Regions from separate parts of the Homo sapiens genome. Here all the other regions are linked to region 1. The links come from fine-mapping of genetic effects on gene expression. A gene starts in region 1. Each other region holds a variant in brackets. All regions are shown on one strand. Distances are between the middles of the regions.

The links. PIP is the estimated chance that this variant, and not a neighbour inherited with it, causes the effect.
Region 2: its variant is fine-mapped to the expression of MSH4 in whole blood (TOPMed, PIP above 0.99). The same link has a PIP of 0.9 or more in prefrontal cortex.
Region 3: its variant is fine-mapped to the expression of MSH4 in lymphoblastoid cells (GTEx, PIP above 0.99).

What each region holds. Positions count from the first base shown.
Region 1 is chr1:75,793,349-75,799,927 of GRCh38, forward strand. It overlaps MSH4 (mutS homolog 4), which reads left to right and starts at 3,534. Exons shown (of 20, transcript NM_002440.4): 1 at 3,534-3,881. The coding sequence starts at 3,638. RABGGTB (Rab geranylgeranyltransferase subunit beta) reads left to right here. Exons shown (of 9, transcript NM_004582.4): 8 at 736-885; 9 at 1,162-1,738. The coding sequence ends at 1,302.
Region 2 is chr1:75,865,057-75,871,635 of GRCh38, forward strand. It overlaps MSH4 (mutS homolog 4), which reads left to right. Exons shown (of 20, transcript NM_002440.4): 9 at 2,458-2,532. Among named protein-coding and RNA genes, the nearest start is that of ASB17, 64 kb to the right of the region's middle. The variant T/A (reference allele first, on the strand shown) is at 2,923.
Region 3 is chr1:75,161,988-75,168,566 of GRCh38, forward strand. It overlaps a transcript of LHX8 not described here. Among named protein-coding and RNA genes, the nearest start is that of LHX8, 31 kb to the left of the region's middle. The variant T/C (reference allele first, on the strand shown) is at 3,521.

The sequences.
Region 1 (6,579 bases):
AACCTCCCAAAGTGCTGGGATTACAGGCGTGAGCCACTGTGCTCGGCCTGTATTTTTATTTTTAAACCTTAGTATTTCTGAATAACAACGGGTAGAGAAACACCCGCAGTAGCTGTCTACAATAGAGTGAAATAAAAAGCCTGAGGAACTGTCAACAGAAAAATGGGTGGCCGTGGGGAGCACCGGGACCTGCACTTGCACACAATCTAGGGCAGCTTCTAATGAGTCTATGAGTTACTCAGGGATCTCATTAAAATGAGATCAGCCTTGAGTGGGGTTTTCTTTATAGACTTCTGTCACCATATTTTGAAGAGCAAGGGTTTAGTTGATTTTAAGCAGGTGTGTACCCCCCTGGACAGTGCTTGTAGAAAAACAGAACTATACCCATGGATTTCATGATTATACTGCTAGCTTCTTGGTTAAGGGGCTGAGTTAGGCATTCATTGCAGATAGAAACAAAGCAGATGCATGCTTATCAGTGAGTACTGAGATATTTAGCATGGTTACCTATGAATTGAAGTTTGGTCTCTTCTTACCCATTAATTGATTATCTTTCATTCTAAGCAAGTATTTCATACCCTGCATATCAGTATATCCCTGGATTTCGTCCTTCCACATGGTTTGACACTTTGAACATCAGATTACCTAAGAGTGAGACTTAACCCACTTTTAAATTGTTCTCAAAATTAGGGAAATAAAAGAGAATGAAATTGTGGCAACTTTTTTCCCTCCTAGTTACCAGATGTATGCTACTCATGGTGGGTCCTGGCTTCCCTAAAGATAATTGGAAGACTTCATTGGATTGATAGAGAGAAACTGCGTAATTTCATTTTAGCATGTCAAGATGAAGAAACGGGGGGATTTGCAGACAGGCCAGGAGATATGGCAAGTAATATTTCTGACATATTTCTATAAATTATTTCAGCGTTTGCATTACTTCATGGTTCCATGGATTTCCAGGGTGGCATTCCGAGTGTTGCTTTGAAAGCAGTTTTTTTTTCTATTTATTGTAGAGTGTATGAAGGATATAGAACAATCTTACAGAAATTTCTTGTCGCTTGTTGCTAACAAAATTAGTATATGGTAAAGGTCAGGTATTCATAATTTGAAGTTAAAGAAGTTTTCATTTTGTGATCTGTATATAAATTCTTTTTTAAATAGGTGGATCCTTTTCATACCTTATTTGGAATTGCTGGATTGTCACTTTTGGGAGAAGAACAGATTAAACCTGTTAATCCTGTCTTTTGCATGCCTGAAGAAGTGCTTCAGAGAGTGAATGTTCAGCCTGAGCTAGTGAGCTAGATTCATTGAATTGAAAGTTGCATAGTATAGTTTTGCCATTTTAACATTTCTGTATTTGAAGTGCTTATCGAATCTAAAAGTGACTACTGTTAATATTTTGTATATTGTGTTAAATTAATTTTAATAAATTATATAATTATACATATTGTAAAATAAAGACCGGTATTTTATTTTCTGCTTTTTATTCTGAAGTCCTGTTATTCTGACTACAGTTCTTTGTGTATACTTCTGTGTCTGTTATGTTCAATAACTGAGCTAACATAAAATAACTCTAGGTTTCTACTTGATTTTTCCCCCATGTATACCTTTCATCTGTTCTATAGCAAGTTGATGTAAATTGGTTTGTCAACAAGAATGTTAACTGATGAAAGTGGATAGAACCCATACATGAATTAAATGATGCACAAAATAAATGGCTGTTGAAATTTGGAAATGATTGATAGGTTTGAATATGGTTATTCTGAATTGGTCACAGACTTAGGTTAAATGGCAATCTACCATCTTAAAATGGGGTTGTGATTCGGACTGTCCTTTTTTTTTTTTTTTTTTTTTTTTTTTTTAGCATTTTATATATCAGAATTACCCAAAGAAGGAGTTGTCTTCAAATAAGGAAACACTAACGGGTAAGTTGATGGTCACCACAGTATTTTTTTGCACCTGTCTTTTTCTTAAAAAGCTAAAATGGGTACAATCACTCTTTTTTATTTTTTTGTGACAGAATCTCTGTTGCCCAGGCTGGAGCGCAGCAGCACGATCTCAGCTTAACTGCAACCTCCGTCTGCCGGGTTTAAGCAATTCAGCCGCAGCCTCTCGAGTAGCTGGGACTACAGCCGCACACCACCATGCCCGGCTAATTTTTATGTTACTTTAGTACAGACAGGGTTTCACCATGCTGAGGAGCTGGAGACCAGCCTGACCTTGTGATCCACCCACCTCGGCCTCCCAAAGTGCTGGGATTACAGGCGTGAGCCACCACGCCTGGCCTAAAATGAGTACAATCACTCTAGGGGTTTACAGTTTTGGTGAAAGTGAGGTATTCTCTATTTTTAAATTTTATTTTTTAGAGACAGGGTCTTCCTTTCTTCCCCAGGCTGGGGCATAGTAGTGCAATCACAGCTCACTGTAACCTTAAACTCCTGGGCTCAAGCAGTCCTTCCACCTCAGCCTCCTGAGTACCAGGGTCTACAGGTACCTGCCACCATGCCCACTATGCCCAGCTGATTTCTTAATTTTGGGGACAGGCACTGTCTTCCCCAGGCTGGTCTCCGGAGGTGAAGTAATCCTCTGGCCTCAGTCTCCCAAAGTACTGGGATTACAGGGAGGAGCCATCGTGCCCGATCTGAAAATAAGGTTTTTTGATGGAAATTGAGATTTTTCTCAAGTATGTTTGGAATGCCCTGTGCAATAATCATTCCAAGAACAGAGATGTTCTTAAGGACTGTTGTCACTGCATGTGGGTAAACCGCTGTGCATAACTGGTTTATTGAGATACTCAACAGTGGCAGGATTTCAGTAGTGGTGTAAATTAATGTCTTCTAATAGCTTCTGTATGGCAGTATCCAGATAATTTCGTCATGTTTAATCCATGGATCTCTGGTAAGTTGGTACTATTGGCCTTATTTAAGGAATTTTCTAAAGGTCACCACTGCAAAGCTGGAGTTTGAACTTCTAGTGTGCCATTAACTGATTTATATGTTAGAAACCACAGTACTAGAAATTGGTAGATGGGGAATTGTTAACTGAGAGATCTTACCCAGTCAGTCTTTCCCTGTTTCCTACTCTACTATGCACACAGCCATGTGCATACTATCTTTTGATAATATAACTATCTTTCCTATATTTGGTCACAAGATCAACCTTAGGTGGGTTATGCTGTGTGAGCATTACACGTTCTCATTGTGTCAAAGGCACTGGGTGTACTGTGTTGGGTGGTTTCTACATTTAAAGATAAGCTAGTGTGCTTGGACGTGTGGGAAATGCATGTAACATTTGCAATAAGGGAGATTGGGTGCTGTGAGAATAATGGGGCTAACAAATCGGGTGGTCATTGATGGGCCTTGCAGAGTTCTGGTCAGTCTGATACCTGCAGGCTGAGGATGTTCCAGTGAGGTTCATGTGGAAAGTGATGGGTTTGGGAATGGCTGGAAGCAGGGTCATAGACCTGAAGTACGTGAATCCATGTGGAAAGCTGAGCCTGCCTGCGCCTGCGCAGTGCAGCTTAGTGCGTCGGCGCGCAGTTCTCCCGCCCGTTTCAGCGGCGCAGCTTCTGTAGTTGGGCTACTGGAGGGGTCGCTCAGAAACCTCATACTTCTCGGGTCAGGGAAGGTTTGGGAGGATGCTGAGGCCTGAGATCTCATCAACCTCGCCTTCTGCCCCGGCGGTTTCCCCGTCGTCGGGAGAAACCCGCTCACCTCAGGGTCCCCGCTACAATTTCGGACTCCAGGAGACTCCACAGAGCCGCCCTTCGGTCCAGGTGGTCTCTGCATCCACCTGTCCTGGCACGTCAGGAGCTGCGGGCGACCGGAGCAGCAGCAGCAGCAGCCTTCCCTGCCCCGCGCCAAACTCCCGGCCAGCTCAAGGCAAGGAGTGATTGGGTGGAGGAGTCTCCTTGAGGCTAGAGGCCGGCAGTTCATGGAGGCTCGGGGGCACGTGGGTGGTGGTTACCACAGTGAAGTTGTGATTTGGTTGGGGCGTGAGATCTGAGTGCCCTGGGAATTTGGTGAGTCTGGGTGATTAGAAGCCTTGACTTTTCAAATTGGTTCTATTGCAAGACCTTGACTGTGGATGGCTCAGTTCTGAGAAAGGCTGAAGTATCCCATATAACGTCCCTCACAGTGTCTGACAAATGACAGTTTGTGCGTGAGTTTGCTGATAGAAGTTGTGAGCTGATCTTTGGCTGCTGAATTTAATTCTCCAAATCCTGCTAAGGTGGGATAAAATAGATTAAATTGAACATTTCATCTAATTCAGGGAAAATAATATGTTTAGTATTAAAAGAGTGGGCTGGGCGGTGGCTGACGCCTGTAATCCCAGCACTTTGGGAAACCAGGGTGGGCGGATCACTTGAGGCCGGGAGTTCCACACCAGCCTGGCCAACATGGTGAACCTCCCACCCCCATCCCCTATCTCTACTAAAAGTACAAAAATTATCTGGGTGTGGTGGCACGTGACTGTGGTCCCAGCTACTCAGGAGGTTGAGGTGGGAGGATGGCGAGTCCGGGAGGTCGAGGCTGCCGTGAGCTGAGATTGCGCCACTGCATTTCAGCCTGGGTGACACAGTGAGACCCTGACTCAAAACAAACAAACAAAAAAGATGCATGTCCTTCAAATCATTTATTATTTTGTTAGTCTCTATTCATGACAAAGCATCACCATTTTTCACACACGATTGCAACACAATGGTAAAGTAACAAATACCAAATCCAATGGTCATTTTTCAGTTCATCTCATGTGACCTTTCTGCTGTATTTAATGTTCTTAATTTCTTTATTTTTAGAAACAGAGTCTCGCTATGCTGCCCATGCTGGTCTCAAACTCCTGGTCTCAAGTGCTCCTGCCTCGGTCTGCCCAAGCATTGGGATTACAGGCATGAGCCACTGCTGCCTGGCCTATGTTTAATGTTCTTGACTGGTCTTCTCTTAAACTCTTTTAATTTGGCTTCCTTGATTCCACTTGCCCCTGTTTTTCTGCTACCTCCCAGAGAATTGCTGTGCCCACCTTTGTTCCCAAATTATGGGCATGTCATTAAAGCTTTTTTTCCTAGGCCACTTCTACCTAGATGTGACTATCTCCACAGCTCAGATCTCATCTACACTCCAGACTTACTTCAGACTGTCTTCTGAAGTTTTTATTGATGGACTAATGGATACCTCAGGCTGACTATATGATTAATTAAATTCCTCTCTGCACTTTTTTTTTTTTTTTGAGACAGAGTCTTGCTCTGTTGCCCAGGCTGGAGTGCAGTGGCATGGTCATGACTCACTGCAGCCTCAAATTCCTGGGCTCAAGCGATCCTCCCACCTCAGCCTCCCGAGTAGCTGGGACCAAGGCATGTGCCCCTACAGATGGCTAATTTAAAAAATTTTTTTGTAGAGACAGTGTTTTCCTACGTTGCCCAGCCTGGTCTCGAACTTCTAGGCTCAAGCGATCCTCCTACCTCAGCCTCCCAAAATGCTGGGATTACAGGTGTGAGCCACTGCACCTAGCCCTCAAACTCTTAAGTGTTCTTCCATCCTTGTAGCTTACTTACTGTACCACCAGAGTTATGTGGAAAATGATCTTATCATGTCCCTTGCCACTTAAATCAGTAGACCTGTATCTGCAGGTAAAAGATCAAACTCTCTAGAAGGATAGCCAAAGCAATTGGGATCGGTTTCTAATCTTTACAGATTTATCCCTCATCATTTAATATTTACCCTGCTTTCTAACAAAACTGAGCTACTTGCAATTCCTTTAAAGCAACATGAATGTTCACATTGTCAGTCTAATCCCTCTCTTCATCAGATGCTTGGTCACCCACTTATTTATCAGTAATGATAACATTCACTAATTTATATGCACCTACTTTGTTCTGGCTTCTTACTAGGCAGACGGTATCTTTGATCCTCACAATAATTTTGCAGAGTAGATTTTTTTTTTGTTCCTGTTTTACAGATAGAACCAAGGCCCAAATAGGCGAACAAAGGTTCAAATTATGTTAGCAGCTGGGGATAATAATCTGTGCTCTCAATGAACTTAAGGTTCAGTAGAGAAGACAGACTTAAAAATCAACAAATACACATTTAAGAAATAACTGTATTTGAGGTATTTATAATTTTTGAGGTAGGTATAATTAAAGTATGGGGACAAAAGTGGGAAAAGACATTTCACAGAGTAAGTGCACCTTGAACTGGTCTTCAAGAATAAGTAGGAAGAAGAATGCCAGCCAAAGGGAAACAGCTGGAGCGCATTCTTGAGAAAAACACGTGCAAAGGCACAGAAGAATCATGTAAAACTGCTAATAATTTTGCTTGGCTAGAGCAGGAGAGTGATCTAGGTAGATAAACTTGAATGTAGATATAGTTGTGAGAATTAGATCTGGGAGACAAATTTAACCCAGAGACCCCCCATATTCAACACCAGGTCTCTGGTTTTGGTGACTGGATAGATGGTAGTAGTATTTTCTGATTCTGGGAATTTTGTAGGCAAAGCAAATTTTAGAGGGAAGATGATGAGCTCTGTTATGGACATGCTGAGTGTGAAAAGCCTGTGGGATATCCATATATTTATATTAAGATA
Region 2 (6,579 bases), 72 kb after region 1:
GTCTCCATCTGAGAGATGGAGACAAATTGGTTACTTGATCATTAATGTCTCCTGTACAGGTATCCTTTCCTTCTCTGTCTTACTTCCCCACTCCCTTGCTTGTTTTTGCTGGAATTACTTTTTAAAATAAATTATTTGCTCTCAAATTCTAGTTTCTCAGAGTTGGCTTTTGGAGAACCTATCTTGAGTTAGTAATATCTTTTGATAAATAGAAATTCATAATTTAAATGGATCTAGTTTATCAGTTTTTTTTCCCTTCATAGTTAGTGTTTGCTCTGTCCTGCATAAGAAGTCTTTACCTACTCTAATATCTTGATTGTACCCATGGAATTTTAATTTTAATTTATGAAGATGATTGAATGATAACATGGAGACACTAATGCTATTGTTTATTACGTATAGTTCCCAAGAGGAGAGGGCATGTCAGGCAGGACCACCTGGGGAAGTACTAGGGTTGGTCGAGAGGCAGAAGGAGCAAGGAGAAACATGGGCAAAAATGCCAGGAAGTTGCTAGGTAGGGAAGTCACCTGTTGGGCAGGAAGTAAAACACAGATGTTGAAGTTTGTGATTGGAGAGTTTGTAATATGATTTTCACATGCCTGCAAAAGCCAGACTGCAAGGGAGATGTAAACAACTTTAGCTATTAGTTTCACCGTGTGATTAATGGATGCCAAATCATCAATTACAAAATCTATAAAAGTTAATTAGAACACACAAGGCCATGAAGATATTCTTCTTTATTAATTCCAGATATTTTATTGTTTTACCTTTTATACTTAGATATACAATCCATCTGGAATTAATTTTTGTGTGTAGGTTGAGGGAAGGGCCATGTTTCTTTTCTTCCCATATGGATTCATAATTCTACTGGTACTATTTACGGAAAAGACTCTCCTTTCCCCACTGTTCCGCAGTCAACCTTTGTCATAAATCGAGTGCCCATATATATGTTTAGGTCTATTTCTAGACTCTTTATTCTGTTCCATTGGACTCTGTTTTTACGTCAATACCATCATTTCTTAATTACTGTAATTTTATTAGAAGTTGACATTCATTCATTAGTTAGTCTTTCCATCTTCTTCTTCTTCAGTGGTGTGTTAGCTATTTTTGGAATTATCCCCCTGCCCTTTTTTGAGACAGGGTTTCACTTTGTCACCCAGGCTGGTGTGATCACTGCTTACTGCAGGCTCAACCTCCTGGGCTCAAGTGATCCTCCCACCTCAGCCTCTATGTAGCTGGACCACAGACATGTGCCACCACACCCAGCTAATTTCTTAACTTTTTTTTTGTAGAGGCAGAGTTTTGCCATGTTGCCCAGGCTGGTCTCAAACTCTTGAGCTCAAGTGATCCTCCTACCTCAGACTCCCAAAATGCTGGGATTACCGACATAAGCCATTGCACCTAGCATGAATTATTCTTCTTTAGTGATAGTGATGATAGTTGTTTTCTGTTTAGTGAATTTTATTTATTTTTAATCTTCCAGTTAGTTTCAGAGATCCATTGTAAGAGAACATGACATAACCCATTTGGGGCTAACAACATTTATTATGGCATTTTTTCTAAATTGATGCATATGGTCACAGAACAGTCCAGGTATTGTGCAGTGGGGCTATAGACCACGGTACCTCAAAAAGAAACATCTGGCTAGGCATGGTGGCTCATGCCTGTAATCCCAGAACTTTGGGAGGCCGAGATGGCTGGATCATCTGAGGTCAGGAGTTCGAGACCAGCCTAGCCAACATGGTGAAACCCCATCTCTATTAAAAAAAAAAAAGAAACATCTTCATATCAAGTACATTATGTCATAATTGTAGTCCTAAAACTCTACTTCATCTGTCAGTATTGGTAAATTAGTCCAGGCACAGGATCATTCCTCATTCCTCCAGGTTTGGTAACACTGCCCAATTCTAGAGTGCAATTTAATTTATATAAAATTTATTAATAAAATTTGGAATGTTGATATTGCTTTATTTTGGCAAACTATAATTCCTAGTGGAATTATGAAAAGTTTTACTTGAACAAACAGGAACCAATGAGGGAAATCAGTGTTGTTCTATAACTATCTGGGAGGTTTGGATTCAGCCTTTTAAAATATCATCTATCTACAAATACTCTTTGTGCCTTTTTCAGTTAATCTTAGTCTCTTGGTGCTGCTCAGGATTGGACTGCATCTCCTTTTGCTATTCAGTTTAAATTGAACCCAAGAGATTGAAATAGAAATGAAAATTGGATACAAAGAGATGAACTCTTCTCATTTCCAGACTTTTGGGAAACCGGTGTGCTAGGTTAATTATGGTGGGTCAATAATTTTGTATCATTCTTTAGGCTTGCATTGCGGCTAGGCTGATATATAAAAATATATGGGATATGGAAAGAGTAAGAATGTTCAAGAGGAAAACCCATTGTTCTATTAAATATTTATGGTGTCCATCCAAATTTGGGTTTTTATCTTAACAGGTCAATGCTGCTGAATCAAAGATAACAAATTTAATATACTTAAAACATACCTTGGAACTTGTGGATCCTTTAAAGGTAATTTATGTGTGTGTATCGTACAAAACATGTCCAGCATTATTTTTTAACTTTTTGTTGGAAAAAAATTTCAAACTCGGAAAATTGCAAGAATAACATGGCGAATTTCCCATATTTTTTTTCTTTGTACATACTTTACATACACATACACATTGTTAGCCTTATTATGCTTACTGAACCATTTAAGAATAAATTGCAGCACCTAAGTACTAAGGTACTAAGTACTTAGGAGACTAAAGTCTCCCAACAAAAAGATGTTCTCTTATATAATCATAATATTATTATCAAATTCAGAATAATTAATACTGATGCAATACTATTTTATAATATGTATCCCATACTCAAATTTTTAAAATTGTTCTAATAATGTTCTTTATAGCATTTTTTTCC[T/A]GATATAGGGTCCAATCCAGGATCATATCTTATATTTAATGTCATGTTTTTTAAAACTCCTTTGAAGTGGAGAAGTTTCTCAGCCTTTGTTCATGATACTGACATTTTGAAGCATAAGGGTCAACTTTTTAAGTAGAATTTCCTCAATTTATGTGATTGCTTTCTCCTGATTAAATTCATCTGTGCATATTTGGCCTTAATACTCTATGATGTATCCTTTTTAGTGCATCACATCAAGAGGCACATAATGCCATTTCCTCATTCTTGGTGATATTAACTGATCAATTTCTTCACCATAAATTCAGATTTTCTTTTGTAATTAATAAGTTATTAATCTATGGAGAGTTATTTTGAGAATGTGTAAATAACCCAATCCTCATCAAACTTCCACCCATTGATTGTAGAATTAATTGATGGCTCTTACCTGAAGTAATTATTACTCTGATGGTTACAAGATGATTATTTTCTCATTAACTTTTAAATACTACACTGTGTAAAACTTGTTTTTATTGAAGTGATAAAGGGAACTGCTTTTGAAAAAGAAATAATGAAAAATATGGAATAACTTTGTTATAGAGATTATTCTAATAAATATTAACATGGTTTGGCTGTGTCTCCACCCAAATCTCACCTTAAATTGTAAGAATCCCCACATTTCAAGGGCGGGGACTGGTGGAGATAATTGAATCATGGGGGTGGTTTCTCCCATACTGTTCTTTTGGTAGTGAATAAGTCTCACAAGGTCTGATGGTTTTATAAAGCAGAGTTCCCCTGCACATGTTCTTCTTGCCTACCGGCATGTAAGATGTAACTTTGCTCCTGATTTACCTTCTGCCATGATTGTGAGGCCTCCCCAGCCATGTGGAACTGTGAGTCAATTAAACCTTTTTCCTTTATAAATTTCCCAGTCTTGGGTATGTCTTTATTAGCAGCTGAGAACAGACTGATACAGTAAATTTTACCAGTAGAGTGGGGTGCTGCTGTAAAGGTACCTGAAAATATGGAAGTAACTTTGGAACTGGGTAACAGGCAGAGGCTGGAACAGTTCGGAGGGCTCAGAAGACAGGAAGTTGTAGGAAAGTCTGAAACTTCCTAGAGACTTGCTGAATGGCTTTGACCAAAATGCTGATAGTTATAGGGATAGTAAGGTCCAGGCTGAGGTGGTCTCAGATGGAGATGAGGGATTTTTGGGAACTGGAATAAAGGTCACTCTTGCTATGCAAAGAGACTGGCAGCATTTTCCCCTGCCCTGGAGATCTGTGGAACTTTGAACTTGAGAGAGAGGGTATCCAGGGGGAAGAAATTCCTAAGCAGTGAAGCATTCAAGAGGAAGCAGAGTATAAAAGTTTGGAAAATTTGCAGCCTGAGGATACAGTAGAAAAGAAAATCCCATTTTCTGGGGAGAAATTCAAACCAGCTGAAGAAATTCGCATAAGTAACAAGGAGGCAAAAGTTAATAATCACCAAGACAATGGGGAAAATGTCTCCAGGTCATGTCAGAGACCTTTATGGCAGCCCCTTCCATTACAGGCCCAGAGATCTAGGAGGAAAAAATGGTTTTCTGGCCCCGCTTGCTCTGTGCAGCCTAGGGACTTGGTGCTCTGCGTCGCAGTTGCTCCAGCTATGGCTAAAAGTGGCCAACACACAGCTCGGGCCATGGCTTCAGAGGGTGCAGGCCTCAAGCCTTGGCAGCCTCCATGTGGTGTTGAGCCTGCAGGTGCACAGAAGTCAAGAATAGTTTGGGAGCCTCCACCTAGATTTCAGAGGATGTACGGAAATGCCTGGATGTCCAGGCAGAAGTCTTCTTCAGGGACGGGACCCTCATGGAGAGCCTCTGTTAGGACAGTGCAGAAGGAAAATGGGCAAAAGCCCCCACACAGAGTCCCCACTTGGGCATTGCCTAGTGGATCTGTGAGAAGAGGGCCACTGTCCTCCAGACTCCAGAATGGTAGATCCACCGACAGATTGCACCATGCACCTGGAAAAGCCACAGACACTCAACACCAGCCTTAAAAGCAGCTGCAGGGTTCAGGGGGCTGTACCCTGCAAAGGCACAAGGGTGGAGCTGCTCAAGGCTATGGGAGTTCACTTCTTGCATCAGTGTGACCTGTATGTGAGACATGGAGTCGAAGGAGATCATTTTGGAGCTTTTAGGTTTGACTGTCCCACTGGATTTTGGACTTGCGTGGGGCCTGTAGCCCCTCCATTTTGGCCATTTTCTCCCATTTGGAATGGGTGTATTTACCCAATGCCTGTACCCCAATTGTATCTAGGAAGTAACTAACTTGCTTTCCAGTTTTATAGGCTCATAGGCAGAAGGGACTTGCCTTGTCTCAGATGAGATTTGGACTGTGGACTTTTGAGTTAATGCTGAAATGAGTTAAGACTTTGGGAGACTCTTTGGAAGGAATGATTGGTTTTGAAATGTGAAGACATGAGATTTGGCAGGGGCTAGGGGCAGAATTATATGGTTTGGCTGTTTCCCTACCCAAAACTCACCTTGAGTTGTAATAATCCCCACATGTCAAAGGCAGGGCCAGGTGGAGGTAATTGAATCATAGGGCAGTTTCCCCCATGTTCTCCTGGTAGTGAATAAGTCTCACGAGATCTGATGGTTGTTTAAAGGGGAGTTCCCCTGCACATGTTCTTCTTGCCTGCTGCCATGTAAAACATGACTTTGCTCCTTATTCACCTTCTGCCATGATTGTGAGGCCTCCCCAGCCATGTGGAATTGTGAGTCAATTAAACCTTTTTCCTTTATAAATTACCCAGTCTTGGGTATGTCTTTCTTAGCAGCATGAGAAAGGACTAATACAAATATGTATAGTTAAAGTAATGTGGCAAAAGACTTCAAAAATGTTTTCACCTTTCTTGTAATGAAATAAATGGAATAAATCACCAGAAAAATATTGAGAGATTTCATGAAACACAAATTTTAAACTTTGGTATGTCAAAAGCAAAGTAAAAGGCAAAGGTAGGAAAAATTTATAACAAATGACAGTTTATTAGTCTGTTTTCATACTGCTATAAAGAACTACCAAAGACTGGGAAATTCATAAAGGAAACAGATTTAATTGACTCACAGTTCAGTATGGCTGGGTAGGCCTCAGGAAATGTACAATCATGGCAGAAGGAGAAGGGGAAACAAGGCACCTTTGTTACAAGGCAGCAGGAAAGAGAAGGAATGCAGGAGGAACTATCACACACTTATAAAACGATCAGATCTGATGAGAACTCACTCACCATCATGAGAACAGCATGAGGGAAACTGCCCACATTATTCAATTACCTCCATCTGGTCTCTCCCTGGAAAAGTGAGGATTATGGGAATTCTAGGGATTATAATTTATGATGAGATTTGGGTGGGGAGACAAACCCTAACTGTATCAGACAGACAAAATACTAATTTCTGTCATCATAAAACTCATGTAATTTCATAGGAAAATATTGAAATGCCAATGGAAATATGGAAAATGACCCAAAGAAGGAAATCAAGGTGATTAATAAATGGTACCAAAAATGTTAACCTCATCATTAATCAAAGCAATACCAATTAAAACCATAGTTCTTATCTGTCAAAGAAGCAGACATTTTCATTTATCTTAAAGGATGTAACTCATTTCTAATTAGAGATCTATGAGACAGACAACTTATTAA
Region 3 (6,579 bases), 630 kb before region 1:
ATTTAGTACTCACTTTTTGTCTTTTTATATGCCAGTTGGGGAAGAAAAAAGGTAATGAGAAAAAACTTTTAGAACTTAGGTTTAAGTCTGTGTTTAACTGAGCAGATTTGCATCAGGCTGAGGACTGGAAATAATAGCAGAGTATTTGTAATTTTATTCTAGTAATCATAAATACAACCAGAAAGTAATCATATGGATATAAGTAACTTATCTGCCTGAAACCAGAAGCAACAAACCTGCTTCATTATGGGAGAAAGGGGAGGGATTTTTTTTTTTTTAAACCGGCTACTCTATTTTAAATCCCTTTGTAGCCAGAAGTCAACCCATCTAATCTTGAGCCTGATGCTAATCTCTGTGGGTTTTTGTCTACCTGTCCCAGGCATGAAGTGATGAGGTCAGCTTTACCTTTACCTGATGTCTAGGAAAGCTTTTGTAGTATAGCCAAGCTCTGCACTGTTAGCAGTTTACAGCATTTCCCAGCTGACTATAATTGGCATCCCTTAGCTTGGGAGGTGGCTGATTGTGAGTATTCATTTTTATTTGCTGTCTTTTTCCTGTGCTCATCATCCTCTGACTCTGTACAGAGAGTTTTTACAAAAATATATCACCACCCTTTTTAGTTCCAAAGATGAATGCCCAAAGTTGAAGTAAAACTTCCTAACAAAGAGGCTCAAAGCTATCAAAATAGATGAGATTTATATATCCTGAATATAAAACTGTTAATCATGAAAAGAGATAGATGTGAAAGTACTAAAAATATGATATGTGATAGAAGCTTCTGACTTTGCTATCTCTAGCCAGAGATCTTATTTTTAAAACCTAATATTAGGAAAGAATTGAAGTATTTCCATGCTAGTAATATTCAGTGTTTAAGTATGTGAGCACAATACTTACTTGAAATTGAGTATGGTCAGCTTTTGTGAAGATTAGAGAAAGAAAACTCTATATTGTTGGAGTAGCAAAGATGTGGGTAACAAGTAGTTATCTCTTAGGTGTGAAGACATTCATGAGCTGTGAGAGGGTAGGATACCTTTTTTTTTTTTTTGCAATTCAAATCAAGAATCCCATTCAAACATTGAAATGGAAGTCACACTAAGTCAATACTCTTTAAGTGATTCTTTTTATTTGGACAAGGTAGTATTTAGTAGTAGTTTTACATTTGACAAATGTCATTTTTAAAATTCCACATCACTCGTTGTAAATTATAAGTACACCTGTTTTGAATATCCCATAATAAACATTGTTAGATAGAATCACAGCTCATGCTTTTAAAATTTGTTACAGTCATCTGAAAGCTGATAGCTGTAGTATTTCTTGATGTGGTATATTATGTGTATAATTACTCTACTAGCATGATTAAACTAGGTGGCATATTGGGACTTTTGTTATGGCATGGATGACTTTACCAGTTAGCAAAAGTAATGTTTCTATTTTATTATTTAGAACAGAAGTAATTTAGGTTGCAATACACTAAGTACCAAAAGTATATTAGTGTAGGAAAAATTCTCAATGGCTCCTACCGGAGGAGATAAAGAAACTGATATTAGCACTATATGATTTTTACTCTTTTGAAACACAACTAAATATTTAGATGGATCTGAGTCCAAAACAAGTTCAGGTACACTGGATGACATCTCATAAACATCTACTTGGATTCAATCAGATAGTAAGTACTATTTTGTAGCCTACATTTTCCCTTTAGTAAATATCTTTACAAGTCAAATATTACCTACAATATCATTTTAATTGATATATAGTACTATGTCCCCTCAAATTTCTTGTATTAAAACATAGTCTGCAATGTGGTGGTATTAAGAGGTAGGGCTTTTGAAAGATAACCAGGTCATGAGGGAAGAACCCTTGCAAATGGGATTAGTGCCCTTATAAAAGAGACCTAAGGGGCTTGTTTGCCCCTTTGGCCTTCAGCCATGTGAAGACACACAGGTGCCATCTATGAGGACTGGGTCCTCACCAGACAGAATCTGCTGGTGCCTTGATCTTGTTCACTACCTCCAGAACTGTGACCAATACATTTCTGTTGTTCATAAATTACCCTGTCTGATATTTTGTTATAGCAGCCTGAATGGACTAAAACATATAGTATTACACTGCTTGAATAAAACAATTTTATTAGATAAATAGGTTGTATCTAACTTTTTATTATTATGAATAGAGCCTAACATTGTGAGCACTTTCAGGATGTCCTGTTTGAGTGCCTCAGGGGTATTTTGATATGTATTCACAGCAACTTCATGAAATGGATTCTATTATCACCCTTATTTTACAAACATAGAAATTAAAAAATTGATATGTCCACTATCTTGGTGGCAAGTAACAAAGCCAGTATTTGGATTTAGCAGCTCAGTGATTCCAGATGCCATAATCTTAACCACTATGCTATACTATTACCATTTTAAATGACACTGTGAAGGCATCTTTGTGGCTACCTGCTACCTTTTAATGTATATTCTTATTTCCCCAGTGTGAATTCTTGGAAGTGGAATGGATGTGCATGCATAGGTTTAAAAGGCTCTTGAAATGCATTGATTTCCCACCAAATGTTGCACTAAATTACATCTCCACCAGCAGTGTTTGAAGTGTTTTTGGAACCCTTGTCTGTCCTGCCTAAATTGGAGTTGATAAATATTTTTTAATCTTATACTCAAAAATACAATTTTAAAAAACTTTATTTATTACTTGATATAAAATTGTAGTTTGCATTTCGGAGAACCAGTATCCTTTTTTTTTTTTTTTTTTCCAGGCAGAGCCTCGCTGTGTTCCAACTACTGGGCACAAGTGATCTTCCCAAGTAGCCAGAACTACAGATGCATGCCACCACACACCACACAAATTTTTTTTTGTAGAGACTAGGTCTTGCTATATAATATGACGCACAGGCTGGTCTCGAATTCCTGGGTTCAAGCAGTCCTCCCACCTGTCTTCCCAAAGTGCTGAGATTATAGGCATGAGCCACTACGTCCAGCCGAAAACTAGTATCTTATAAAGGGGCTAAATTTAAGCACAAGCTGCCACTTTTGTGACTTTTTTTTGCCTTTAGTTATTCTGCATATATTACTAAAGTGAGCATTCATTAGGATTTTTTCAGCTGAGGTTTCATTCACTTGATATCAAATGTTTTACTTTAGTACCTGGCACTCTATCATATTCTGTTTTCTTTGTTGCTGATTATGGTGATAACTTTATTACATGGTCCTTCATACTTTTTAAATGCGTTTCTGTATATCATCATGCTCTCATTCAACAGATGAGGGAATTGAAATTTAGGAAGCTTCAATTAACATAATTAGGCCTTTGGTTTTAATATGCAAGAATTCTCCAGGGCACCAGATTATTTTTATAAATGTATAGAGATCTTAGGAGAATAAATTAACAAATTTCCCCCAGTTCCTTGAGTTTCATAAGAAATAGACTGCCATAGGCTTAGAGGATGTGAAAACCACTGCAAGGAACTGCTTCTCCTTTTCTAAATTGTCATCAAGTACAGTACTTACCACAAAGA[T/C]CTGAACTTGCTAGGGGGCTGAGAGTGGAGTTTAGGGATGGACTGTGTATGGGCACTTGTATGGGGGTATCAATGGAGGAAAAAAAGATGTTAAGAAATAAAGAATAGAAGGGGTCCTGGGGAGGTAGAAACAACATCTGTCTTGCTCTCCATTACATTCCCCAGTTCCTGCCACCAAGTAAGCACTCAGGGATTGAATGAGGGTGGTAGAAAAACAATCAGAATAAGACTCTATGTTTGAGCGTCCTAGGATAACTTCAAATTCCAAAACAGATCTTTTCAAATCCTTAAGGAAAATATTCTACCCTTCCTTTAGCAAATATCTTATATACCTGTGGCAATTTATATTCTTTTTACACCATTTAGCATGGAATGGGAGACAGCTGGATTTTGACACTTTCTCTGACACCAATTAACTGTATCCCAAGGACACTTAAGCCTCCCTGCATGCTGATTTCCTCAACAGTAAAAGGAAAGTTTTTATGAAGCAAAAGTGAGATGAATGGAAAAAAGACATGGTAAAAACATGATCCATTAATTTTGAAGGGCGGGGTTAGTGGCAGGAAATCAGGCACTCTGAGGCCGGGCAGTTGGAGGTGATGGAGCACCAGAAGTTTGGCAAGCACTGCCCTATCCCAGGCAACCCCAGGAACAAAGCACTTTGTGCATTTCTTTAAATAAAGTCAGAGGTGGAGCATCTATGCTGCTAATGAGTTACACATTCTCCAGCAAAGTGTTTTTACTCCAACCTCCCTACAAATGGAAAACATCTACTTCCTGTCTACATTAACTCCCTTCTTGATCTTAAAGAATTATTCAGTCAAGTAGAGGTGTGACCTTCTGTGATTTGGATGTAGAGAGTCTGTAAAATTTAGTTTGCAGAAATGATTTGAATGTTTTCCAAAATAATTTTCTTAAACCCAAAGGAATTATGATGCCATATTTGAAAATGGAAACCATTGTTACAAATTCAATTTCAAAATATTTACTTCCCGGAACCAGGGTGATGTCTCTAGAGAACCACTACTAGTTATTAGCTCATTTCTTTCAGATGTATTGGAATAAGTCTGTTATTTTGCCAGCATGGTTCTGAACCACAAATTTCATCTTTGGTTGAAACTCCTCCAAGCGAGACCATATGCAATTTTCCTAGTTCATCATTTGTCTTTCAGAAGACAGCATGGTGCATTTATGACAATGGTAAAAACATGTCTCAGAAGTCTTGGTGAACAAAACTAGCTTGACAGGCTCCACAGTAGAGCCTAGCACTTGCAAAGGGTCATCAATGGAACCAAGGTGGGAGAAGGATCGGGAAACTTCTAACAAAGACTTGGATCCAATCCTATAATGGGCTTCCTCTCCTGTTAGGATAGAATGAGGGCGATGAGACAGTCTACAGGAAATTCATGGGCTCAGAGGAGCATGCAGTGCTCATGTAGGGCAGGGGATAAGGTGTCGAAGTGGAGCTGAGCTGGCACAGGAGCAGGCAGGGCAAAGGCAGAGTTGCAGCCTCTGTGTGTCACTTGCCTGCTTGTGTTCTAATCTGAGAGTGGACTTCTGGCCTTTGTGAAGCATTAGTTTATTCTGCTCTGTCATGGACATCTGCAGGAATGGCATGGCAGTAGGGCTGAAGCTACATTACAGACAACATGGAGAAGTATCACAAAAACTTTCACGTCATGCTGTCTGGAGTCCTCGTTTTGCCACATCCCACCATGGTGACTGTGGGCAAGTTATTAAACTGCGCTGTGCCAGAGTTTTCTCATATGCAAAATGGACTAATAATAGCACTTTTCCCAAATGGTTATTGTGACCCTGTGATAAGATAGTACATATAAAGTACTTAGAAAAGTATCTGGTGCACAATAAACCCTGAAAGTTATCTGTATTTATTCCTTGGTAAACTAACTCCTAACACCAGAGGAAAAAAAATGCCACCATCTTTCACTAGCTTTCCCTCTCCTTTCTCCATTTCTCTTTTCCTGACTAACAATTCCTCATCATCCAGGACCAAGCTCAAATATCATCCCCTCCAGGAAGCCTGCCCTGATTGTTCCCCACACCCCACCCCAATGTGGGTGAGTTCTTTGTGTTCCCATCATTTCCTCAAAGGATATCTCTACACTTTAATAAGTTTTATTATAATTTTCCTTCCTCAGTTTTGTCTCAAGATTAGACTAGAGACCCTAGACTATTCATGTTAGGGTTTCTAGGAGCTAGCACAGGGCATTGACAGAGCAGTCTCTTGCCATGGTTAATTTACTCCATGCCAGGATCCCAGGGACAGCCTTTCCCCAGCAACTCCTCAGCCTGGGCTACACGATGGCCCATGGAAGTTCTCTGCCTCAGATGGAACTGTTTCTTGTTCTCTTCGACTAAGCAAAACAGACAGGTTGGGTCATTATCGAGTAATTCAGGCAAGAGAAGCAGCCAAACACATGTTTTTATCTGAGTTACCCAAATTGGCTGACTCCCCAGCCTGCAGTTACTGGGTAATTGCTCAATCTTCCATTTGGCTTTTACTGTGTAAATGTGGCTGCAGAGTCTTTTTATTTCTCTCGAATGGCTCCTCCCATTTTCTGTCTAATATAGGTTAAAATGTAAAGTTTTCTTTTTCCTCTGCCCGCAGTAGCTGTCTAGGCCATCAGCACACCTTGCTTCATTAGCCTTCAAAGTGGGCCAGAATGGTCGGATAGGTATCTAGTCATAGTTTTCTGTTTGTTTGTTTGTTTTAGACAGAGTTTCACTCTTGTTGCCCAGGCTGGAGTGCAATGGTGTGGTCTCGGCTCACTGCAACCTCTGCCTCCTGGGTTCAAACTACTCTCCTGCCTCAGCCTCCCAAGTAGCTGGAATTACAGGCACCCACCTCCACACTTGGCTAATTTTTACATTGTTTTTTAGTAGAGATGGGGTTTCACCATGTTTGCCAGGCTGGTCTTGAGCTCCTGATCGTAGATGATCCACCTGCCTCAGCCTCCCAAAGTGCTGGGATTACAGGCGTGAGCCACTGCACCTGGCCTGGTCATTGTTTTCAATTTGTCCTGGATAATCTGCTGTCA